Linked DNA regions of Homo sapiens: regions 2, 3, 4 and 5 are each reported to be linked to region 1. The links are microRNA targets in miRTarBase. Many come from high-throughput screens and were not tested one by one. Region 1 holds a microRNA gene; each other region holds the end of a gene's coding sequence.
What was found. Region 1 holds the annotated microRNA hsa-miR-588 (UUGGCCACAAUGGGUUAGAAC, at 2,832-2,852, opposite strand). A microRNA usually pairs through its seed, bases 2 to 8, with sites in the 3' UTR of a target mRNA and lowers its output. Matches are read on the target gene's strand: a 7mer-m8 pairs with bases 2 to 8, a 7mer-A1 pairs with bases 2 to 7 and ends in A, and an 8mer does both.

Region 1 (5,103 bases):
TACAATAATAAAATAACGATTTACAATAAAACAAAAATTATATTTTTTATTTTTTTATTTTTGTGGGTACCCAGTTGGTATATAAATTTATGGGGTACATGATATATTCTGATACAGGCATATAATGCATAATAATCACATCAGGGTATATGAGGTACCCATTACCTCAAGCATTTTTTGTTTCTTTGTGTTACAAAAAAAATCCAATTATACTTTTTGAGTTGTTTTCAGATATACAGTAAATTATTGTTGACTGTAGTCATTTTGTTGTGCTATTAAACAATAGATCTTATCCATTGCATCTAACTATATTTTCATGCCCATTAACCATTCCCACATTCCCCCACCCCTCACCTTTGAACTACCCTTCCCAGCCTCTGATAACCATACTTTCAACCAGACTTCCATCTCCATGAATTCACTTGTTTTAATTTTAAGCTCCCACAAATAAGTAAGAACATGTGAAGTTTGTCTTTCTGTGTCTGGCTCATTTCACTTGACATACTGACATCCAGTCCCATCCATGTTGTTGCAAATGACAGGATATAATTCTTTTTTGTGGCTGAATAGTACCCCATTGTGTATATCTGCCACATTTTCTTTATCTATTCATTAGTTGGTGGACATTTAGGTTGCTCCCAATCTTTGCTATTATGAATAATGTTGCAATAAACATGAAAGTGCAAATATCTTTTTGATATATGGATTTCCTTCCTTTTGAGTATATACCCAGTAGTGGGACTGATGGATCATATGATAGCTGTATTTTTGGTTTTTGGAGGCACTTCTAAACTGTTCTCCATAGAGGTTGTACTAATTTACACTCTCGCCAACAGTATACAAGGGTTTCCTTTTCTCCACATCCTTACCTGTATTTATTACTGCCTGTCTTTCAGATATAAGCCATTTTAACTGAAGTGAGATGATATCTTTTGTCTGAGAAATTCTTTATTTCTCCTTCATGTTTTAAGGATATTTTCGCTAGTTATACTATTCCAGAATAAAGTTTATTTTTTTCCTTAAGCACTTTAAATATGTCATGCCATTGTCTCCTGGCCTGTAAGGTTTTCATTGAAAAGTCTGCTGCCACACATACTAGACCTCCATTGTATGTTATTTGTTTATTTTCTCTTGTTGCTTTTATGATACTTTCCTTATCTTTGACCATTGGAGTTTATTAAATATCTTGAAGTTTTCTTATTTGGGCTAAATCTGCTTCATGCTCCATAACTTCAATTACATGTGGAATTTAAAATAACTAAACTCATAGAAGAGAGTAGAAAATGGTAGTTACAGAGGCTGGGGGTAGGGGAAATAGGGGCATGATTGATTTCCTTGAATATTGGTATCTTTGTTTAGGTTTCTCTGTTATTATTCCTTTGAATAAATTTTCTATCCCTACCACTATTTCTATCTGCCCTATTAAGGCCAGTAACTCTTAGATTCGCCTTTTACAGGCTGTTTTCTAGATCCTGTAGGCATGCTTCATTTTTTTTATTATTTTTTCTTTTGGATCCTCTGTGCATTTTCATGTAGTCTGTCTTCAGGCTCACTCATTCTTTCTTCTGCTGGATCAATTCTGCTATTAGATACTCTGATGATTTCTTCAGTATGTCTATGGCATTTTTCAACTCCACAATTTCTGCTTACTTATTTTTAATTATTTCAATCTCTTTGTTAAACTTATCTGATAAGATTCTGAATTGCTTCTCTGTGTTACCCAAATTTCTTTGAGTTTTCTCAAAACAGCTATTTTGAATTTTCTGTCTGAAAAGTCCTCATATTGCTGTTTCTCCAGGATTTCTCCTTGGTGCCTTATTTGGTTCATTTGGTGAGTTCATGTTTTCCTGGATGATCTCTATGCTTGTGGATGTTTATTGGTGACTGGGCATTGAAGACTTAGGTATTTATTGTACTCTTCACAGTTTGGGCTTCTTTGCATCTATCCTTCTTGGGAAAGGTTTCCAAGCATTCAAAGAGTGTTGGGTGTTGTTATCTAAGTTTTTGGTCACTGCAGCCATATCTGCATTAGGCAGGGCTTTTCCTGTGGCTCTTGCAGACTTGTAGAGGTACTACCTTGGTAGTCTTGGTTAAAATCCAAAAGAATTCTCTGGATTCCCAAGCAGAGACTCTTGTTTTCTTCCCTCGCTTTCTCTCAAACAGAGTCTCTCTCTCTCTCTCTGTGCTGAGCTACCTGGTGCTGGGGGAGGGGGTGACACAAGCCTCTTTGTGGCCACCATCACTGGGGCTGCAATGGGTCAGATCTGAAGCCAGCACAGCACTGGGTCTCACCCAAAGCTCATGGTAACCACTGCCTAGTTACCATCTGTGTGTACTCAAGGCCCTAGAGCTCTACAATCAGCAGATGGTAAAGCCAGCCAGGCATTTGTCCTTTCCCTCAGGGCAGTGAGCTCCCCCAGCCCTGGGTGGGTCCAGAGATGCCAGCTGGGATCCAGGGCCTGAACTCAGAAACCTTAGGAATCTACCTGGTGCTCTATTCTATTGCAGCTGATCTGGCACCCAAGCCACAAGAGAAAGTCTTTCCCACTCTTGCCTATTTCTTCCACAAATAGAAGAGTCTCTCCCCTTGGCCACCACCAGCCCAGGCTTGCAGCAAGTACTTTCTGGTTACTGCTGATGTTCACCTAAGGCCCAAGGACACTCCAGTCAGCTTGTGGTGAATGCTGCCAGGCTGGTACTCTCCTTTTAAGGCAGTGGGCTCTCCGCTGGCCCAGGGCAGGTCTAGAAATTCCATCCAAGAGCTGAGGCCGGGAATTGGGACCCCTTAGGCCCAATTTTGGCCATGGTGGGTAAGAACACAATGGAATAGTGTTCTAACCCATTGTGGCCAAATTGGTACCTAAGCTGATTTTCGGTTCTCATGAAGGTGCTTTTTTATTTAAATAGTTGTTCAATTTGGTGTTCCTGTGGAGGGGACGACCAGCAGAGACTTCTATTTAGCCATCTTGCTCCATCTTCTCCCCTAAAAATTGTTTTTAAATGAAGGTACAATAAAGATATCTTTGAAAACAATGGCTGAGAAAATTCTTCACCACAGACCTGTGCTAAGGAAATAAAAACTAGGTCTTTCAGCTAAAAAGAAAAGGGTCCCAGTTACAAGCAAGAAGATGTAATAAGAATTGAAGTAAATATTTTGGGCAAGAAAGAATATTGATAATTATTGATCTAATCTTTCATTTCAAAAAGCTAGTGGCAGAAGAGCAAGTACAAAGAAAGTAGATGAAAAACAGATAATCAATATAGCCCCAAAAGTCAATTCACTAGAAAATAGGCACACAAAAAAAATAACAAAAGCAAAAACTTTAAAAATATTATTGTGATATATTAATATATTAACATTATATATAACTACAGGTCCTACAGAATTTAGAAGAAAATAAAGGACATTACTAACACTTTGATGCTGGTAATTTGGAAAAAAAGGACAAATTACTTGAAAAACCACAAGTAATAATTCACAAAAATAAAAAATATGAACACTCCAATATCTACTAAAAACATGTAATTTTAAGCTTTTCTTACAAAGAAATCTTTAGACCTAGATGACATCTCTGGAAAATTCTTTCAAACATGTAATGAAGAGAAAAAAATACATTCTAACAAAAAATTATCCAGAAAACAGAAAACAGAGGGAAAAATTTCTTAATTTACGAGGCCAGCATAACCCTGATGCCCAAACCTTACAATAACAATGTAGGACTGGAAAAGTATAGCCCAATATATTTCATTAATCTAGATGGAAAAATCCTACCCAAAATATTATCAAATTCCACCTAGTAGTGTATTTAAAAATCATAGGTTTTATATAAAACTAATTGGAGTTTTTGCCAGGATTGGAAGTTTGGTTTAATATTTTAAAAATCAATCAGTGTAATTCATCAAATTAGAAAAAATAGAAAAACTTTATGAATATTTCAAAGGAATGTGGAAAAAAGCATTTAGTAAAATTTTACATCTGTTAATAAAAGAGAAAACCCATTTGATGATTTTAGTATATTCAATAAAAAAGCTCTTAATAAGATTCTACACTTGTTCATGATTTGTTTAATTCAGTAAGTTAGGAACAGGAGTGTATTTTCCTAATCTGATAAAGAGGTCTACTAAAAATATATAGTTAATGGTAAAGTTTTAATGCAATTGAACAAGGATAAGGAAATAATATCAATTATCAGCACTTTTATTCAACATTTCACTGGAGTTTCAAAGCAGTTCAATAAAGCCAGAAAAAAATATAAATTTTCTGCAGAAAATTTACAAGAATCTACAAAAAAATTAAAAATAAGAAAATTTACAAATAAATGTTTCCAATAATCAGTCACCTCCATTTCTTTATACTAGAAATAACTGAAAAATGAAATTTAATTAAAAAGCAAAATCATTTATAATAACATCTAAAAGGGTCCACTACCTAGGATCACATATATAGAAACATTGCAAGGCTTTTTCCTTAAGGACCATAAAACATTGGTGAGAAAAATTAATATCAAAATAACTAAATAGATATACTCTGTATATTGACTGAAAGACACAATATTGATAAAATGCCAATCTCCCTCAAATCAACATAATCTCTATCCAAATCCCAGCCTGTTATTTTGTGCAAATTGACAGTTTTATTCTAAAATGTACATAGAAATGCAAGGACTTTATATAGTCAAGAAAATATTACAGAAGAAAAACTAAACAGGAAAACTTATACTACCAAATATCAAAGCTTTTATAAGGCTAAAAATAATTAAGATGGTGAGGAAATAATACAACAAAAGGTAAACAAATGAAACAAATTAGAGAGTTCAGAAATACACTCACTCAAAAATACTTAGCTGGTTTTGATAAAACACTATTGCAATTCAATGTATAAAGGATGTCTTTTTGATAAGTGGTTCTGGGTCAATTGGCTATCCATATAAAAATAAATTAACCTAAATCCATACATAATATCATGTATAAAAATCTTATATTTAAGGACCATCAAAACCTAAATGTGAAATATAAAACAAGACTTTCATAGGAAAATATAGAACATTATTGTCATGATGGGTGCCTCTTTCTTAAACAGTATATAAATAGCACTTACCATAA
Region 2 (5,103 bases), not on the chromosome of region 1:
GAGAAGCAGATACAACATAGATTTAGTTAATCATTCAAGGAGTTATACAAAAATGAAAACCTTTGAGTGTAATATTTGTGAAAAAATCTTCAAACAGCTTATTCACCTTACTGAACACATGAGAATTCATACCGGGGAGAAACCTTTCAGATGTAAGGAATGTGGAAAAGCCTTTAGCCAAAGTTCATCTCTTATTCCGCATCAGAGAATTCATACTGGTGAGAAACCCTATGAATGTAAGGAGTGTGGGAAAACCTTCAGACATCCTTCATCGCTTACTCAACATGTTAGAATTCATACCGGGGAAAAGCCCTATGAATGTAGGGTATGTGAGAAAGCCTTCAGCCAGAGCATTGGACTGATCCAGCATTTGAGAACTCATGTTAGAGAGAAACCTTTTACATGCAAAGACTGTGGAAAAGCGTTTTTCCAGATTAGACACCTTAGGCAACATGAGATTATTCATACTGGTGTGAAACCCTATATTTGTAATGTATGTAGTAAAACCTTCAGCCATAGTACATACCTAACTCAACACCAGAGAACTCATACTGGAGAAAGACCATATAAATGTAAGGAATGTGGGAAAGCCTTTAGCCAGAGAATACATCTTTCTATCCATCAGAGAGTCCATACTGGAGTAAAACCTTATGAATGCAGTCATTGTGGGAAAGCCTTTAGGCATGATTCATCCTTTGCTAAACATCAGAGAATTCATACTGGAGAAAAACCTTATGATTGTAATGAGTGTGGAAAAGCCTTCAGCTGTAGTTCATCCCTTATTAGACACTGCAAAACACATTTAAGAAATACCTTCAGCAATGTTGTGTGAAATATACTAAACATCAAAGAATCTATGTTGGAGCACAAGATTCTAAATCAGTGGTTCCCTGATCCCTCAAAAATCCATTTGTTTTTGGATTTCCAAAAACGAACATTAAAAAAAAATGGTTTGGCACAATGTTCCCAACTCTTAATTTTGCCATATTAAAAACACAACACCTATTATCAGCATTGTTTCAGAAAAGAAAGGACATTTTAATATTTTTAAATGTAGGAACAGTTCCCCCCTCCATTTTTTTTTTTTTTTGTTTTTTGAGATGGAGTCGCTCTGTCACCTGAGCTGGAGTGCAGTGGCGTGATCTCAGCTCACAGCAACCTCCACCTCCCAGGCTCAAGCAATTCTCCTGCCTTAGCCTCCTGAGTAACTGGGATTACAGGTGCCTGCCACCACACCCAGCTAATTTTTGTATTTTTAGTAGAGACAGGGTTTCACCATGGTGGCCAGGCTGGTCTCGAACCATTCAGGTGATCCGCCCATCTCGGCCTCCCAAAGTGCTGGGATTACAGGTGTGAGCCACCGTGCCTGCCCCTCCCCCACCCCCGACCCAGACCCTTTTTTAAAAAACAGTTTCACTCTTGCCCAGGCTGGAGTGCAGTGATGTCATAGTTCACTGCAGCCTCAAACTCCTGGGCTCAAGCAGTCTTCCTGCCTCAGCTTCCCAAGTAGCTGGGCCTACAGATGTGCACCACCATGTCTGGCTAATTTATTATTATTATTATTATTATTATTATTATTATCATTATTATTATTGTAGAGACAGTCTCACTATGTTGCTGGACTGGTCTCAAACTCCTGGCTCCAAGCAGTTCTCCCACCTCAGTCTCCCAGTATGCTGCGATTACAGACATGAGCCACCGTGTCTGGCCAGGAACAGCCTGTTATATTACGTCAGCTTTATGACAGACTCCCACATTTATCTTTACTTTTCCCAGTTCACTATGTGCCAGTGAAATTTCATGGCGTGTTAGTGATCTGTGGATTAACTTTTGAGAAACACTCTTTTAAGTATCCCTTTAATAAATCAGAATAAAATATAGTACAGCCTTTTACTCTAGCCCTTTATATGGCTAGAAGAGGTAGAAATTAAAATGTTGCTTCTCATTTCTAGAAGAAAAAATGTTAAAGGGAGTTTTCTAGCATTGATAGATAACTTACTGTACACGAGATGCTTATTTATATTTTATGGTTTTATATAGAGCAAGAATTGGCAAACTTTCTGTAAAGGGCCAGATAGTAAATACGTTAGGTGTTGTGGGCCATGTGGTCCCTGTCACACCTATTCAACTTCCCCATTTTAGTACAAAACAGCCAGAGACAATATATAAACTACAGTATCTGAACCTTGGCACTACCAATATTTTGGACCGGATAATACTTTGCTATAGGAAGCTGCCCAGTGCATCCTGGGATGTTTAGGGGAATCCTTGGCTTCTACCCACAAGATGCCAGCATTCAATGCTGATAGCTGCCCCTCCCCCAGTTGTGACAGTCAAAAATGTCTCCAGACATGGCCAGGTGTACCTAGAGGCCAAAATTGTCCCTGGTTGAGACCCACTGATGAATGTGTGCAATAGTGGTTCCCATAAACTGCATTTAAAAAACAGCTGTTAGGTTTCGTTTGGCTCAAGGGCTGTCATTTTTCACTCCTCCCCCCATAGAGTATGTAAAATGATTAGAAATGACAACAGACTATCATTTAGTATCAGATTAGTGTGTGTATATGCCATAAATTATTTCCTTAGCAATTCCTTTAGTATTTTTGTTGCAATAATTCTTTAAACGCTACATTTGTAATGCTGTCTTGGAGCCTAGGAATTATTTTTGGAGATATTTATGCAGACTTCCCTCTATAATGATCGGTTTTTTATTATGGTTAATCCATAAATATTTTGAGATGTATCTCTAAAAAACGAGCACTCTTTGAAAACATAACCACAATGCCATTATTATACCTACAAAAATTAACCACAATTCCTTAAAACATAATGATGCCTTTTTGAAGAGAGATATATTGAGACTTCATTCTGGGGAGAAACCTTTCAGATAACTTTATTTACCTTTTCCTTTGCCAAGCATACAACATTAGATTTGAAATATGCTTTGTATCAAGTGGAAGTGTCTCTTAAGATAGCCCCTAGAACAACACATCAAGAGGCCCACCAAAGAGGACCAGAGAAAGGTGACTGAAGGAGCCATACTCAGGCAGGGAAATACGGAGAGAAAGCAGAGGAATTGGCTCCTAATGCTTCACTGTACTTAATGAAATAGATACTCCATCCTTACAGACATAATTGGAAGTAAGTCAAGTTCAACTTCTTTGTTTTATATGGAGATAGAACAGTTTCAATCACGTGAGTATTATAAGTGTGAATTATCTAAAGTAAAGCTATAAATCCAGAATATATACCAGTATCTCTAGAATTTTTCATATTACTACATTTACTTAAAAAAAAAGCTGGCCTCTAACTCTTAAGTCCTGTATGACTGATGGGCAGAAAAAGAGTGAGGTATACACTGTTTCTTAAAATTGTTCTACCATGTTTCTATGGTCTTAGATTTCCCAAGAATTTGAATTTCTCCAATTGCTTATTTCCCTGAAAGACATGACTATGACTTTTCTCTGTAGTTCCTGCCTCAGTGATCTCATACAGTCTTTGGCTTAAAATACCGTCTCTGTTTAACAGCTGCCAGATTCACATCTCCAGCCCAGACCTCTCCCGAACTCCAGCCTTGTTCTAACCTTTGGGCCGTTTCACTAGCTGTTGCAGATGCCCTATACCCTTACCTTCTCATCTTTGCTCAATTGTTGCCTTCTTACTGAAGCCTATCCTGTCCATACTATTTAATACTGCAGCTGTCTACCTTCCAGATCGAGAAATCCCATACCCCTTTCACCTGCTCTATGTTTTTCATATCACCTATCACCCTAGATACTTCACATATTTGTGTTTATTGTTTACTGTTGTTTCCCCTGGCTATAATGTAAGCTCCATGTGGGCAGGGGCCTTTGTTTTTTTCACTGATATATCACAAGTGCCTAAAACAGTGCCTGACACGCAGAAGGGACTCAGTAAATATGTATTGAATGGTTTTGATTTGAACTGAATTGAACTATGTATCCATGATGCAAGTAAAGAAATGTAATCCATATACTTTCCTACCTACATTTTATATGTGAGGAAATATTTTTTGTTTCCTTTTTCTTTTCTGTGCAAGTGGACCAATATTTGAGAATCGTATACCTTTGAGAATCATAGCTGATATACTTTAAGATAAAAGGGTATTTCTGTGTTAATTTGGTTTGGTTGTTTTTGTTTGTTTGTTGAGACAAAGTCTCACTATGTTGCTCAGGCTGGAGTGCAGCGTCATGATCATGGCTCACTGCGGCCTCAACTTTCTGGGCTCAAGCGATCCTCCCACCTCAACCCCCTGAGTAGCTGAGACTACAGGCACATACCACCACACCTGGCTAATTTTTGTATTTTTTGTAGGACGGGGTTTTGCCATGTTTCCCAGGCTGGTCTCAAACTCCTGAGCTCAGGCAATCACCTGCCTCAGCCTCCAAAAGTGCTGGAATTACAAGCATGAGCCACTGTGCCCAGCCTAATTTGTTTAAAATGCATTTAAATGTGGCTGATTAACAACATGAGTTTATCTTTATTTCATGAACCTGAGTGCATAAGCAAACTGGAGGGTATAAAAGACAATAGAGGAGAATATAGAAGCAGACATGAGATGTCAAGTTTTTGGTGGTGAGAAAATAGAAGAGTGGTGACTGACTTAGCAGAGCCTGCAGAAAAGTATACTGGCACAAGGATGTTCCTGGGAAGACAGAGGCCTTGGAGACAGTGGGCATTATGGAAGAAAGAGGGCTGAAAATGGGGATTCATTGAAATTCTAATGTCAGATCCTTAGACCCCCTCACCTACCCATACAGCTGGCTGTTACGCACACATTCCTCCCTCATGCCTTTCTTCATCCCATTACCCTTTCCTCATCCCAAAGGAGACTAGAGGTTTATTCTCTGGTGAAGGACCGGTCTCCCAATGTGCTGGGATTACAGACATGAGCCACCATGTCCGGCCAGGAGCAGCCCTGTATATTATATCAGCTTTATGACAAATTCCCAAATTTGTCCTTACTTTTCTCACTTCACTATGTGCCAGTAAAAATTTCATGTCATGTTAGTGATTTGTGGATTGACTTTGGTGTCCTTGATTCCAGAGTTGTTCTAGAATCAGGGACACCAGACAGTAGAG
Region 3 (5,103 bases), not on the chromosome of region 1:
ACAACCTTGGGCAAGTCAGTTATCCTACTTAAAAACAGGATAATGTTAACTTCACACAGTTGTTTCAAGGATTAGCATTAATGTAGAAAATCAACTCATCAGGCATTGAAAAAATGGTGGCTATCAGTATCAATGATCACATCCCAATCCAGTTATGGACCTAACTTTAAGACTGCTGCTAAATCCCAGGGAATGAGTTCTGCAGGAGCAAGCAGTCCTGGCCTCAAGTCCGTATATTTGTGCATGTTCCCCATTTTGTTTTGCCATTTGAACACATTTTCAGCATGTCTAGTGATTCACCTATAAATGTCTTCTTCAAGTGGATCTCAGCCTGCACATGCTGCACATTCTGAAACTCACAAGAACAGTATCCTTGCTCCCCACATTGATTTTGGTCTTGTCTTCCACCTTAGAAAACTAGTATATGGTATAATACAGTATTAAAGTTTTAAAGTACTAACTTTATACACAACACTGCCCTCTAGCGACTAGAATAATTTTTTTTTTTTTTGAGACGGAGTCTCGCTCTGTTGCCCAGGCTAGAGTGCAGGGGCACGATCTCAGCTCAATGCAACCTCCACCTCCCAGTTCAAGCAATCTTCCTGCCTCAGCCTCCGAGTAGCTGGGATTACAGGCACGCACCACCACACCCAGTTAATTTTTTTGTATTCTTAGTAGAGATGGGGTTTCATCATGATGGCCAGGATGGTCTCAATCTCTTGACCTCGACCTCGTGATCCGCCTGCCTTGGCCTCCCAAAGTGCTGAGAATTACAGGCATGAGCCACCACGCCTGGCCTAGAATAATTCTTTCTAGTTGTCTGTTCAGCTGCTCTCTGGGTAAAAATTAAAAATTCTGTCATAGATTGTCTTGAATGTGTTGGCTGACATTAGAGAAATGGAAATCATAACTACAATGAGATACCACCTCATGCCCAATAGTAATTTGAACAACAATTTGACAATTCTTTATAATATTAAAGTTACATGATCCAGCAATTCCACTCCTAGAATTTAAAACCTGTCGGCCAGGCGCAATGGCTAACGCCTGTAATCCCAGCACTTTGGGAGGCCGAGGCAGGCAGATCACGAGGTCAGGAGATCGAGACCATCCCGGTTAACACGGTGAAACCCCGTCTCTATTAAAAATACAAAAAATTAGCCGGGCGTGGTTGCAGGCGCCTGTAGTCCCAGCTACTTGGGAGGCTGAGGCAGGAGAATGGCCTGAACCCAGGAGGAGGAGCTTGCAGTGAGCTGGGATCGCACCACTGCACTCCAGCCTGGGCGACAGAGCAAGACTCCATCTCAAAAAAGAAAAAAAGAAAATATATATATATATATATATTTAAAACCTGTGCACATAAAAACCTCTTCTATAATGTTCATAACATTATTTTTAACAGCCCAAAAGCGAAAATAATCCAAATATCAACTGATGTATGGGTAAATACAATGGAATATTATTCAGCCATAAAATAAAATGATGTACTGATACATGCTGTAACATGGATGAACCCTGAAAACATGCTATATCAAAGAAGCCAGTTCCAAAGGATCATACATTGTATGAACTTTTATGAAATGTCCAGAACAGGGAAACCCATAGAGACAGAAAGTAGACTGGTGATTCCCAAAGACTGGAGGAGAGAAATGGATTGACTGCTAATGGGAGGTTCTTTTGGGGGTGATGAAAAATGCTATAAAAAATTGATTTGGTGATGGTTGTACAACTTTGTGGATATTCTGAAAACCACTAAACTGTACACTTTTAAAAGGTGAATTTTATGGTATGTGAATTATATCTCAATTTTATTAAAAAACGGGAAACAAAAAAAAATGGGAAACAAAAGTGTTGGCTGTGTTGGGATGGCCATTTAGTAGTAACATGTTAGGCACATCTCCCCTTCAATATAACCTCCCTGACCCCAGCCCCCAAAGTCTTAAGAATTTGGCCTCCATAATCTTCTTAATATTTATTTCTTACAATTTTTTTTTTTTTACTATAAGCATGTATTACTCATAATAATGGGAGGTAGATCCAAATTTTCAAGGAATAATCTGAACTTTTATAACAGAAACTGTACTTAAGAACACTAATAGAGGTTGGCTGACACCCTGAAAAACTGGTCTGTTACGTTTAACTGTGGGCCAGTCAGCTTCAAACTCAGGAAAACCTCTCACCTCAGTTGCAGGGGAAATGGGCAACAATAATAGTAGCTACTGCTGACAGGCTGGGCCCTGTGCTTAACTCCATCTATCATCTCCACCAACTATCCCACATGGCATGTGCTACCACTATTTTACAGATCAGACCGTTTACATAACTGAGACCGAGGATGCACATACGCCCCTCCCCTGAAACGCAAGTCTCACTGAAGGTAGACTAAGATGCCACCTTGGTGTAAATAACAAATTACAATAAACTCTGACTCAGATACTGAAGAACAGTCTAAAAATATTCATTGATAAAAGGTAGGTGTTCAAAGATGACCCAACTTCTATTTTCGCCTTCAATAATTGTTACACAGTTAAAATACAGTGACAAGCTGCTTCCACATGGCTATAGGTAGGGATTTGTTATCCAAATGCAAATCTATCTAGGTCTGAATTTCTAAAAGTAGAATCTTTTTTTTTTTTTTGAGGTGGAGTTTTGCTCTGTCACCCAGGCTGAAGTGCAGTGGTGTGATTTCAGCTCACTGCAACCTCCCAGGTTCAAGAGATTCTCCTGCCTCAGCCTCCCAAGTAGCTGGGATTACAGGTGCCCGCCACCATGCCCGGTTAGTTTTTGTATTTTTAGTAGAGATGGGGTTTCACATGTTGGCCAGGCTGGTCTTGAACTCCTGACCTCAAGTGATTCGCCTGCCTCAGCCTCCCAAAATGCTGGGATTACAGGCGTGAGCTGCCACGCCTGATTTAAAAGTAGAGTCTTTAAATAACCTTCCCAATACTTCTTTCTTGAGACAGGGTCTCGCTCTGTCACTCAGGCTACAGTGCAGTGGTGCAATCTCAGTTTCTCACCATAACCTCCAGCTCTCAGGCCCAAGCAATTCTCCCACCTCAGCCTCCCAAGCAACTGGGACTACAGGGCCAAGTCACCAAGCACAGCTAGTTGCACTTTTTTTTTTTTTTTTTTTTTGGTAGAGATGGGGTTTCACCATGTTGGCCAGGCTGGTCTTGGACTCCTGACCTCAAGTGATCCGCCTGCCGCAGCCTCCCAAAGTGCCAGGATTACAGGCATGAGCCACCGGGCCCAGCCTACTTCTTGAATTAAAAAACAAAAAACAAACAAAAAACCCAGGCAGATAATGAAATCCTGCATACACTCAAGTCTGCATGAAGCATAAGGCCAAACTGGAAAGTGGGCATTTGAACAACCCTCTTCCTGCTCCCTTCCCCTAACTAAGATGGGCTTCTGGGCCTATCAACCATTCTTTGGTAAAGAGCAGCAATTCCCCATAGGCTCTTTAACAACAGCATTGGTGTTTGAGGTTGCATCTTTAAAACATCTATTTCAGGATTTGGAAGCTTCTGGAACCATAACTTTAACCCAGCCTTCCATAACAGTCTTTTTACTTTCTATTACAGAACATGACACTGCAATAATAGCAATGAACCGCTTCAGCTTTTTCACTTCTGCAGAAGCTAAAACAACTTCTCCAATATATAAAGGGGCTGGAAAGCTAATTTCCTGGGAAAGAAATACACAGCCTGGCCCTGGCATTTTAGTTCCTAGGAGAGCTGAGATAAGTCCGTTGATCAAAACTCCATGTACAATTGTATTTCCAAACTTGGTGTGTTTTGCAAAGTCTTCATTCAAATGCAAAGGATTGACATCCCCTGTTAATTCTGAGAAGGTAGCCACATCAGTCTGTGTGAAGGCCCTCCTAAGTTCAGCGCGGTCTCCAACTTTGATGTGCATATGCTGAAAGTGCTGCAGGGTCAGCACTGGCAGGTTCAGACAGACTGTCCTCCGAAGCCCACCCCACCAAAGGTGATGGCTGGAAATTAGTGGGAACATCTTCAGCACCCTCAAATTTCATCAAGAGCTTTTAGCCTGCTTCAGTCTTCAAACATGCAGGCACCAAAAAATAAATATGAGAGTGGATGAACGTTTCCAAAATGGAAGACTATTCATTCAATCCAATACTAGTTCCCTACTATTACCAGATAATGCAAGAAGAAATGGAGAAACCTAGAAGAGAAAGAAAAAGGTTAAGGCATTGGGAGAAACCACACTGAAGCACAGGGCAATGGGGAAACATGCCCAGTTTTACAGGATAAACAAAGCTGATGCAGGAGCATTTTACAGAGCATCCTGAGAGGAAGCCTTCGATAACAAGTGGTCACATCTCAAAAAGAGCGTACCAATATATAACACACAAGGCATTAAGTGTTAAATAAAAAAAGTAAGCCTTAACCACAGGGTTGCAAGTTTTATCCCAAAACATCTCCCATAGATTTTAAAATCTAAGTGCTCTGTCTCACATTTTTGGAAACAATCAAGTCCTTTATTTTCCCCTACTTAGATCATTTTAACCATATTACATTTATGCAAGCACAAAAATGAGTTGTGTATATTAAGAAGCAGTTGACCCATCACTCAGTCTTGTTTGGAATATGTGAGGGAATAGTCTTTACCTGAATCACCCGGAAAGCACATTTTTTGCCTTTATAGGATCCTAACAGGGTCAAAGAGCTCCACAATTTGACAAGACCACTGCAGAAAGATCAAGAAAATACATAGTGTGTCATAGACAGAGAACAAAATGAACTTCAACTAAGGTTTCTAAAATATTCACTTCTGACTTTGCAACTATAACCATCAATGGGAAAACTACAGCTGTAACCAAATCGTAAGTTTTGCCCTCTCTAGAGTACAAGTTTCTGGTGGATGAATGTTCATATTCATCCCAGTTTAAATTCCCAAAAGCTGCTCAGAGTTCACAACAAAAAATTTATTCTCATTCTCAGAAGAGAGCATTTTTGCTCCATCGGTCTCTCTGCCCTGTTATACTAGAAATTTCCCACTCTCTGTCATACCTGCTACATATTCTCAAGATGGCTGACAAGGTCTTCTCTTCATAGGTTAGGATGTCCAAAGGTA
Region 4 (5,103 bases), not on the chromosome of region 1:
GAGTCTTGCTCTGTTGCCCAGGTTGCAGTGGCGTGATCTCGGCTTACTGCAACCTCCGCCTCCTGGGTTCAAGCGATTCTCCTGCCTCAGTATCCCAAGTAGCTGGGATTACAGGCACACACCACCATGCCAGGCTACATTTTGTATTTTTAGTAGAGACGGGGTTTCGCCATGTTTGCCAGGCTGGTCTCCAACTTCTGGCCTTAAGTGATCCTCTCACCTCAGCCTCCCACAGTGCTGGGATTATAGGCACAAGCCATCATGCCTGGCCAGCGAGGTTTCCGTCACATAGCTCAGAGTTGTCCTTCTAACCCGTCTGCTGAATGCTGAGCAGGGATCCCCTGTGGACGACTCTGTTTGCTTTACAAAGAAGTCACGAGTTAGCGCTCGGAATGCTCAGTATCATCAGCGTTCATCCCTGGCCACCTCCTGACTGATACAGATTTAGAAACTCTTTATGATTCTTTATGGTTCCCGTAAGCCCTTTAGTCTCGTAAACCCTGGTCTCCTAGTGGGGATGGCATGAGGACATTTGAGCCTGCTCTTTCCAAGGCTGCTTCAGAAGGGCCTGGCCCAGTGGCCCTGACCCTCAGCAGCAGGCCCGACTCATTGGAGTGATGATGGTGGGGGAGGAGAACCTGCACCTGCAGGCTGAGGATCGCATGAGCCCCAGAGATTGAGGCTGCAGTGAGCTGAACACAGACTGCACTGTACTCTAGCCTAGGTGACAGAGCGAGACCCTGTCTCTAAAAAAAACAAAACAAAACCAACTATGTGTAATTGGTAGTGGAGTCTCCCAGGGTGGGAGATGGCAGAGTGACAGGTGAGAGGGGTGGGACGTTCACTGTAGTCTCCCTCTGCCCTGCAGCTTCCCCTTCCTCCCTGCACTTCCTCTACAAGCTGGCCCAGCTCTTCCGCTGGATCCGGAAGGCTGCATTTTCTCGCCTCTACCAGCTCCGCATCCGTGACTGAGGGTCCCTGCGCACCACAGCCTCTCTGCTCCTCACGTCCGTGGCCACAGAAGCAGAGCGACAGAGCGACACATCCACAGGCGCCCCTGGGGAAATGGGACCAGCCTAATCTCGCGGAGTGCACTGTGTCTTGCTGCCTGGGTGCCCTCTCCTTTGCACCCTACTTCGGCTGGTCGCGGTAGATGATGTGGAAACAAAGCAGGACCAGCAGGCACAGCACCTCCAGAACAGTGCCCCGGATGACCAGAGGCCCCTTGAAAAGGAGGGGTTTGGGGACAGGGACTGTGTCCATGAAACATTCCATCTTCTTGGTGAAGGCAAGGGGTTGGTTCTTCAGGTCAGGATGTTAATGGAGCTGGAAGTTCAGAAAAAGCCTGGTGAAGTGACCCTTGGCCTTTCACTTCTTGAGAAACATACTTCTTTGCTGGGCATGGTGACTCACGCCTGTAATCCCAGCACTTTGGAAGGGTGAGGTGGGTGGATCACTTGTGGCCAGGAGTTCAAAACCTGCCTGGCCAACATGGTGAAACCCCATCTCTACTAAAAATACAAAAATTAGCTAGATGTGGTGCACGCCTATAGTCCTAGCTACTTGGGAGGCTGAGGCAGGAGAATCACTTGAGCCAGGGAGGCAAAAGTTGCAGTGAGCTGAGATTGTGCTACCGCACTCTCTCAAAACAAACAAAAAAACATGCCCCACAGGACAGTACCTTAATTAGCTAGAGTAGATCTGAGAGGGCCTCTTCTTGCCTGCACTGTGCTCCCCAGAGCTGATCTAATTCTGTATCAATAGGCTGTTCCCATGGTCTTGCCATGCGCTTGAAGCTGCAGGAGCCTTCTCACTGTTCAGGCTGGGGTGTGGTTTTCAGAACCACCGGGTTGACTACTGAAAACCAAGTGAGCCTTACAGCTCTTATCGCTGGGTAAAGTGATCTTGCCTGGTGCCTCTTGGTCTTCAGCTCAATTTTCCAGGTTGTCCTGGCCAAGTCTTGCTCTGTTACGCTCAGTGCCTCTGCCCACTCTTTCCCCGCCAGCCCTTCCCTCCCGCCCTGCAAACTTGTCCCTTGGCTGTTTCACCAGGTTCTGCCTGTATCCTTGCCTCCTTGGTACACACCATTTCAGGTTCTTCCCTTTCTGTGTCCCATTGTCCTAGTTATGTTCTGTTGTTTGTGTAATGCCCAAATTTTTCTGCTCGTGTGGCCTTGAAAAGTAGGCCAGCCTCAGAGGCTGCTGAGCTGAAAATGGAACTGAGTAATCAGGTGAGCTGGAAGGGATGTGGGGGGCGGGGCAGACGGGAGACATGGGTTTTGAAGGCAGTGAACAATAAAACCTTAGGGAGGTGGCACCGAGGCCTTAGCATTTGAGGAGCTGAAATGTTTCAGTGTTGTTTTCTCACCAGCCACAAGCATCTTATGAGTTTCTGTGCAAGGAAGCGTAGAGCACTGCTGTGCTGTCAGGATGAAGAAGGGCTTTCTGCAGGGGCTGGCCTTTCTCTACCCAGAGGCCAAGCAGGCTGCCCTGCACTGTGTCCTTGGTGTTGATGCCCAAAATAGAGAAGGTGCTTGCTAGCTTTTCCTTGGTACATTTTCGGGGGTTGCAAGGCAACAAGTTTTCTTTTGTTTTGTTTGTTTGTTTGTTTGTTTGTTTTTGAGATGGAGTCTCTGTCACCCAGGCTGGAGTGCAGTGGCGTGATCTCAGCTCACTGCAAGCTCCGCCTCCCGGGTTCATGCCATTCTCCTGCCTCAGCCTCCCGAGTAGCTGGGACTACAGGTGCCCACCACCTCGCCTGGCTAATATTTTTGTATTTTTAGTAGAGTCTGGGTTTCACTGTGTTAGCCGGGATGGTCTCGATCTCCTGAACTTGTGATCCACCCACCTAGGCCTCCCAAAGTGCTGGGATTACAGGTGTGAGCCATCGCGCCCGGCCAACTTTTCTTTAGAAAAATGAGTAAAGTAGGTAAACTTCACAGGCCCCTTAGAATTAAATCCTTAGGGCATGGTTCAAGTCTGTAGGAAGCAAATCTATACTTTTTTATATGGGCTTTTAAGTAAAGCTTAGAACCCTGGGGGGAGAAAAGCAGTCAGGTGAGGTTTGAGATTCCTTCTATAGAATGATTTCTTAAAATGAAAATCTGGGCCCACTTAACTACCCTAGATAAAACGCTTCAATGGCTTCCCATGGCTCACTGGATAACATCTAAATTCTTCATGGAATTGAAGGCCCCTATGTGCTGGTTTTGGCTAAGATCTCCCCTTTGATGTGGGTCCCCTGTTGATTATATGTGCGGCCTTCCAGCTGCCCACCATCACAGCTACAGCTCGCTCCCCTTGGCCTCTGTGCCTTGGCTCGCACTGTTCCTACTGAAGGCCTAGCACCTGCTCTTGGCCTGGTGAGCCCCTCCACCTTCCAGGCTTACTCAAAGAATTCTTTCTGCCCCTCCCTGTGTCCCGGGACCTGTTTCATATCGCTTCTGTGGTCGTGACCCCATGGTCTTGTAATTGTGAACTTCTTTGCTGCCCCTTCGAAGCTGGGGAGTGCTTGTTGCAGATGCATCCAAGAGGGGTAATTGCGTATCAACAGTGGATTTGCTGGTTGTTTCTACAGGGTTCTGAAGCATGCAACATAGAACAGATACCTTTAAATTTAGGGGCGCTAAGGAAAGCAGGAACCAGTAATCCTCTTCTGTGGTGGGATGGGAGGGTGGGGGAGAGGGGTGGAATGGAGAGGAAACAGGCTATTGTTGGCCAGCCCTGGGTGGAGGTGGGTGCAAGCAGGACAGATAGTGCCTGGGGGTGGGGGCGGAGGGTTCGCCTCTAGGAAGGGGCTAGAAGGGATGAGGAAATAGTTCATAGCTTCGTGCAGGTGATCCCTATTCTGCGTGTATGTGTTTGCACATGAGTGTTTGTAGACCATAGACCATTAAAAAATACGGAATTCAAAAGTTACAAAAAGGGTATTCTTGGAAAAGAAAGTTGTTTTTTTTTAGTCTTGCTGTGTTGCCCAGGCTGGACCTGAACTCCTGGGCTTGAGCAAGTCTTCCCCTCAGCCTCTGGAGTAGCTGGGCCTACAGTGTGTGCTGCCACACCCAGCTAATACAGTCTTTCTACTCCCGCTCTCTATTCCCCAGTTTCTTGCCCAGAGGCAACCCTTGCCAGTCTGTTTATCCCTCCAGATACAGTCTCTGATAGTAAACTTTTCTTTCTCTTACACAAATGATAGTAGTCACATACACTACACACACTGTGCCACGTTTAAAAAGAAAAAAAACAATTCTCGGCTGGGCGCGGTGGCGCATGCCTGTAATCCCAGCACTTTGGGAGGCCAAGGTGGGTGAATCACCTGAAGTCAGGAGTTCGAGATCAGCATGGCCAACATGGTGAAACCCCATCTCTACTAAAAATACAAAAAAAAAATGAGCCGGGCATGGTGGTGGGTACCTGTAATCCCAGCTACTCAGGAGGCTGAGGCAGGAGAATCACTTGAACCCGGGAGGCAAGGGTTGCAGTGAGCTGAGATCGCGCCATTGCACTCCCACCTGGGCAACAAAGAGTGAAACTTGGTCTCAGAAACGAAACAAAACACAAAAACCTTTCTCAGTCCCAGCATATGTGGAGCAGCCTCATTCTTCATAGCTGTGTGTCATTCCGTTGCGTGATGGGGTCACAGAGCACAGACCTGGTGCCCTTTTCCTTTTTAATATGTGGAAACCCCTCCATGCTTTCCAAAGCCTACAAGTACAGCAGCCCCAAGTTTAGGGTGAGCAGCAGTGGTCAGAGCTCTTTACTATTACTTTTGGGCAAACGCAAGCCAGGCTGGCAACCACCACTGCCGCCGAGGGGAGATACAAGCAGGCCAGTTCACACTCTGGACGTTCAGTTTCTTTCTACATCTAGAAGGTGGCCTCTGCTATCCACTTAAAGCAGCCCAAGGAACTGTCAGAAAGCGAAAGTGATGACATGAACCGCGAGTAGGGCACCTCCCTGTGCCGTCGTCTGCTTTCCTTCCTCCCTCCCAGCCTCCCTGTGCCGTCCTCTGCTTTCCTCCCTCCCAGCACGGAAAAGCCGTGGGGCCGATGGACTTTGGCCTCACATCCACAGATGGGGCCTGTGGGAATTCTACTGATTTACTCTC
Region 5 (5,103 bases), not on the chromosome of region 1:
GCACGAGGGACCCCTCCCCCGCGGTGAGCTCGTCTAGGCCTCCCGCCTGCGCTCTATGGCTCTGCTGAGTTTCTGGCATGTCTCTATTCTTTCTCCCTCTCCATGCCTATGGTGTGTTTATGCTCTTGTTTTTTGATCCTGGAGAATATTTGGGTGAACTCCACCAAACCTGCTTACTAAGGGTCCCTTTCTGACACCTGTGGCGAAGCCCCCTCCTCCCTGTCCCTTCCTGCCTTCAGTGCTGGGGTTGGGTGGACGCTGACTGGCTGTTGGGCGTGAGCCTTGTTCACAAACCTGCCTCTCCTTTCCCCACAGATCTTTGTGGAGTTCACCTCTGTGTTTGACTGCCAGAAAGCCATGCAGGGCCTGACGGGCCGCAAGTTCGCCAACAGAGTGGTTGTCACAAAATACTGTGACCCCGACTCTTATCACCGCCGGGACTTCTGGTAGAGGCGGCTGGGGGAGGGTGGGGGCAGGGCTGGCTGGGGGCTTCTCCCCACTCCCGCCCCCCCCTTATCCCCCTCTGAAGACGATGGGCAGAGGAGTGACAGCCGCAGACACACGACAGCCGGCAGCAACTGGAATGGCAGCAATTAAGGGTGGGGGGCGGGGGTTGGGGGGTTGGGGGGTTAGGGCAGGGAGGGGACTGGGGAAGTGCGCACACAGCCCACACAGACAACACGCACCCACACAGACACAGAGGGAAGGGGTTGGGATGGGGACAGGGTGCACAGCAGGGCGGGGTAGGACCCCAGCCCCTCCCAAAACAGCCTCTCCTTCTCCCATAGACCCCTTTCTTCTCCCCTTCCCCACGGTAGGAACATAGCGTGTTTATATTTTATGGCCAAACTATTTTGAATTTTGTTGTCCGGCCCTCAGTGCCCTGCCCTCTCCCTTACCAGGACCACAGCTCTGTTCCTTCGGCCTCTGGTCCTCTCTGGTCCCCTCCTGGGTTTCTTACGTAGTTGATTTTTCCTCTTTAGTCTCCCCCGACCTGCGCCCAGCCCCGTGGCCCCTGCCCCTCTCCTACTCTCTGTGGCAGTTTCATATTTGCTAAGACGAATTTGCTCATTAAACATTTTGTTGTATTTTACTTTATGGAGCGGCTGTGTGTCCAGTATGTCCGACCCTCTTCCTCGGTTCTGGGCTCGGGTGGGGGTTCCCTTGGCAAACTGCGGGCCCCTGGCTGGGACGCCCCTGCTGCCGGCGCCGGCAGCCTCGAGGCCTTCCCTGCTTGCGCGGTGCCCTTCTCGGGGTCGGCACAGGCACAGCCCCGGGGGACGTGAGGTTCCCGAGTGCTCTCCCACCCCGCCGACAGGAGGGATGGTGGCCGAGCGGGCCGGGGCGGGCGTGGCGTGGGTGTGCCAGGAGCTCCGCGGTTGCCGCCAAGCGAGCTGGAGCTGACTCTCGGCGTTCCGTGAGCACCGCGCGGATCCCCCGCTGCAGCGGGCGGAAGTGACGTAGAGGCGCCTAGCAACGGGGCCCAGCGCGCCGGAAGTGATGCCTTCCAGGTTGGCTTGGCTGCGGAAGCGACTCCTGCCAGGGCGGGGTGCGGCACGGGAGGGCGGGGAGCGCGGCAATTTCCGCTTCCGGTCCGTCGCCTCCTTCTGTTGCTTCCCGTCTCCTCGGCGGCTCCCCTCCCCCGCCCGGCTCTCCGCGCCCCTTCTGGGCGGCGGGGCGGCGGAGCCGTCGGCGTGCGGCCCTCCTTGCGTTCGTGCGTGCGCCCGTGGCCCGGCGCACGTCCCGCGACACCGAGGCCGAGCGGGGCAGGGGGCTGACCGCCATGACCCCCCAGAGCCCGGCGTGAGGGGGCCGAGGTGAGCGCGGGGCGGAGCGCGGGGGACGCTGGCCCGCCTGCTCCGGGTGTTCGGGCCTGGGCCGCGGCGCGCGCGGGCTCGCGTCTGGCCAGTTCTGGGTGTCTCTGGCGGCCTTTGTGTCTCTGCTCCTGTGTCGGCCTTGACTGCCCCCGTGTCGGTTGTCTGTGTCTGTCTCTCTCGTGTCTGTGTGTCTGTCAGCGTCTGTTTCCTGTGGGCCTCTGCCTGTGCCTGTTTCAGTGAACTTAGAAAAGGGTTTGGAGATAGGAGTGTGTTTGTGTGTCTGTCCCGGGTCTCTCTCTCCTCTGTCTGTCGTGTCTGTGTCTGTCAGGATTTGTTCGTGTCTCGTTGAGTTTCCGAGTCTTCTTTTCCCTAGGTGTCTCTAGCCCTTCCCTGCGGGCTTTTCTGCCTATGGTGCAAATCTTACCCCCGCCCCGTCTTCGCATCTGAGTTTTGCCCCCATACCTATCACCTCCAATCCTGAAGTTTCTTTCCAGGAGTCTGTTAACTTGATCTAGAATCTGCCCCTTTTCCCCAGTTTTCTGAGTCTCTGGTGTGATGGTGAAGAGCCCCAGCCTTGGATTCAGAAGCCCGGCTGCCTGCTAAGCTGTGTAATTGCCAGGTGATAGTCTCTGTGTCAAAACCTCAGTTTCCTAGTCGTAGGAAATCCATAGTTCGTAGGCATTCGTAGTTCCTACATCATAGGGTCCTTGTGCATGTAAGTTGAGGTGATGCTTGTAAAGTGCCTGACGGTATCTGACACATAGCAAGTGTGTAATTACTGGGAGCTCTGGTTTTTATTATTACAGTGCTTAGAGATTTTTACACAGTAAGTGTTAGATATCGGTCGGTTATTGGAGTACTCCTTGGAGAACTTTGCCATATCCTTTGTATTCTTTTTAATGTAAGAATTCTCTTTGAATCAATTTAATTTGAAATACAGTCTCATTCTAAGCAGTATCTGAGAAATCTCAGCTTTGATGTGCTAGTTGGGTAATTTTTTCTAATGCACGCCAAATAAGTACAGAGTATTAAGATAGTGCCTTTTCTGCCGCCACCCTTTTGGAAATGTTCTCTGTTTTTTCTCTGATAATAATAGCAGCCAGTGTTATTGAGCGCCTACTATCTGTGGGGCACAGAGCCAAGCACTGCATGTACCCATCTTATTTAATCAACAGGCCTACCAGGTAGGAATTCTTTCATTTCAGAGTTGAGCAAACTGTGTCTCAAGGAGGTGTGCGCTGCAGGTAGCTGATGTGGCCAGGATTTGAACCCACATTTTATATTCTTTGCCATTAGATTCCATTTTTCTTATCTCTTATTTCTCAGCGCCAGGTCTCTTTTTGTTTCTGGGCCTCTTTCTTCCTTGGCCTCCTGCCTCCCTGTCTTCCCATGTTCTTGTATCTGCTGCTGCCTGTGTTTTTCTCATTGTGTCTCTGCCTAGCTCCCTCTGCCCAGGTTTCTATGTGTCTCTTTCTGTCAGAACTGTCTTCTATTTCTTCTCAGTCCCCTTCTCTGCATTTGTTACATCATCTCTTCATCTTAATGTATTAGGCTGGGGCTGTTTTGGGACTCCAGAGAGTTACTTTTTAACTAGCTACATCTGTCTTCAGGTGCCTGGCTTTCTGGCCTGAGGTGGAAGCAGAGGCCAGCCTCTCTCCGTCATCCCTATCTCCCCTGGGCTTACATCATGGCGGGGCTTTGAAAATCTCCCTCTGTGGCTTCTTGGAGCCGCATAGATGGGTGATCAGAGCTGGCTCTGGAACCAGGCTGCTCCAGGAGTAAGGTGTGTGTCCCTGGGCAAGGGGCTGAACCTCTGTGTCTCAGTTTCCACCCTGTGAGGTGGCTATGAATCATGGGGTTGTTTCAAGGATTAACTGAGTTAATACATGTAAAGCACTTAAAACAGTGCCTGGCATGGGATAAGAGCAGTGCGAGTGTCTGCTGGTGTCATCATCATTTGCTTGACTCTCTTGTTTCTCGTCACCAGTCTCGGGATGGGTTAATTTAATTTAGGTTAATTTAAAAGTATGAGTTTTGGAGTTCAGGTGGGCCTCGGGTTGAGTCTGCCCTGCCATTCCTGGTGTGTGACCTTGGTTGAATTATTTAACTTCCAGGAGCCCAGTCTTTGCATGCAGTGTTGAAAAAGGTAATGTCCCTCTTGTGCTGAGCGAGCACCTGGCACACAGCAGGGACCCAGGCAGTGGGGCTGTTAGGTTCCTTATCTCTCCTGAGCCTTGGGCTTCCGCTATCCTTGGGACGTCTGGTCTTCTGGCTTCCCCGGTTCTTCCTGCCGCCCTGGGTTGGTTCCCTGCTCCTGCCTCTGTCTTTAATCCCTTCATCAGCCTTCTTTCCCATGTGTCCTTGTTTCTGCTGTGGATTCCTGCCCCCTCTGCCCTTGTTCCAGAGGTCTTTCCTGCCCTCCCTCTCCACTTCCTCCTTGCATGGTTTACTGAATGGTTTTTCTGGGCCAGCTTCTTTGCTGGGAAAAGCCACATGCAGACAGACATGTTCTCTGCCCCCATGGGGCCTGTGGGTTGACCTTAGCTACAGAATCAGACGAGAATATAAAATCATGAGGGAGACTGAGTTTACTGATGAGGCCCCAGGGATAGGTGACTGTGATGTTTGGGTGTGCACCTGGGAAGTGTAAGCAGAGCCCTTGGGGTGAGTGGATATCCCTGGATGAGGAAGAAGGAAGAGCGCATGGGCAGGACGGAGGGCCTCCTGATGCGCTGCCGGTGTTTACAGGGCGTCAGTTCTCTAGATGACCGCATGGAGCCCCATTTGACAGAAGAGAAAGCTGAGGTGCAAAAGATCCAGCCCGCCCAGGGTGGCCTTGCCAGGAAGTGCTGAGCCAGGTTGTGGGGCTGCGATCTGCCACTGCATATACTCTGCCTCACTGAGCAGGGGCCCCAGCAGGAAGGAGGCAGCCTGTTTGAGGAACTGAAACATGGATGGGGTTACTTTGAGACCTAGAGGTTAACAAGGGACAGAGCCTTCTGGGCCACAGTTAGGAACTCATCTTTGACCCTGAGGGCTCTGGGCAGGCCATGTCCCATTTGTGTTTCCAGAGGTCCTCTTCCCCTCGCAGATGCGGTGACCTGCCAGCACCTGCCGCAGCCTTCGTCCGGGAGTCGCCCCATCTCTCCACGCATCGGGGCCCTGTGCCCCTTGCTGCTGCAGCCGGGCACCATGTCGACCTCGTCCTTGAGGCGCCAGATGAAGAACATCGTCCACAACTACTCAGAGGCGGAGATCAAGGTTCGAGAGGCCACGAGCAATGACC

Region 2: the mRNA of ZFP69B is a reported target of hsa-miR-588. The part of its 3' UTR that is shown has no 7-base or 8-base seed match.
Region 3: the mRNA of RPP14 is a reported target of hsa-miR-588. Seed matches in the 3' UTR shown: 7mer-A1 at 3,159-3,165 and 7mer-A1 at 2,817-2,823.
Region 4: miRTarBase lists PEX26 as a target of hsa-miR-588. Seed matches in the 3' UTR shown: 7mer-m8 at 1,012-1,018, 7mer-m8 at 1,460-1,466, 7mer-A1 at 1,484-1,490, 7mer-A1 at 1,951-1,957 and 7mer-A1 at 4,338-4,344.
Region 5: the mRNA of U2AF2 is a reported target of hsa-miR-588. Seed matches in the 3' UTR shown: 7mer-A1 at 842-848.

What each region holds. Positions count from the first base shown.
Region 1 is chr6:126,482,395-126,487,497 of GRCh38, reverse strand. It overlaps MIR588 (microRNA 588), which reads right to left and starts at 2,867; the gene lies at 2,785-2,867. It also overlaps a transcript of CENPW not described here.
Region 2 is chr1:40,462,758-40,467,860 of GRCh38, forward strand. It overlaps ZFP69B (ZFP69 zinc finger protein B), which reads left to right. Exons shown (of 5, transcript NM_023070.3): 5 at 1-958. The coding sequence ends at 832. Among named protein-coding and RNA genes, the nearest start is that of ZFP69, 12 kb to the right of the region's middle.
Region 3 is chr3:58,316,528-58,321,630 of GRCh38, reverse strand. RPP14 (ribonuclease P/MRP subunit p14) reads right to left here. Exons shown (of 6, transcript NM_007042.6): 4 at 5,040-5,103; 5 at 4,638-4,716; 6 at 1,438-4,191. The coding sequence ends at 4,135. It overlaps HTD2 (hydroxyacyl-thioester dehydratase type 2), which reads right to left. Exons shown (of 5, transcript NM_001348712.2): 3 at 5,040-5,103; 4 at 4,638-4,716; 5 at 1,438-4,191. The coding sequence starts at 4,017. The coding sequence ends at 3,511. Among named protein-coding and RNA genes, the nearest start is that of HTD2, 13 kb to the right of the region's middle.
Region 4 is chr22:18,087,104-18,092,206 of GRCh38, forward strand. PEX26 (peroxisomal biogenesis factor 26) reads left to right here. Exons shown (of 5, transcript NM_001127649.3): 5 at 869-5,103. The coding sequence ends at 972. Among named protein-coding and RNA genes, the nearest start is that of PEX26, 12 kb to the left of the region's middle. RefSeq lists enhancers at 4,590-4,649, 4,670-4,879.
Region 5 is chr19:55,673,619-55,678,721 of GRCh38, forward strand. U2AF2 (U2 small nuclear RNA auxiliary factor 2) reads left to right here. Exons shown (of 12, transcript NM_007279.3): 12 at 316-1,098. The coding sequence ends at 450. It overlaps EPN1 (epsin 1), which reads left to right and starts at 1,608. Exons shown (of 11, transcript NM_001130072.2): 1 at 1,608-1,817; 2 at 4,909-5,103. The coding sequence starts at 5,010. RefSeq lists silencers at 1,170-1,389, 1,560-1,889, 4,085-4,379 and an enhancer at 4,301-4,710.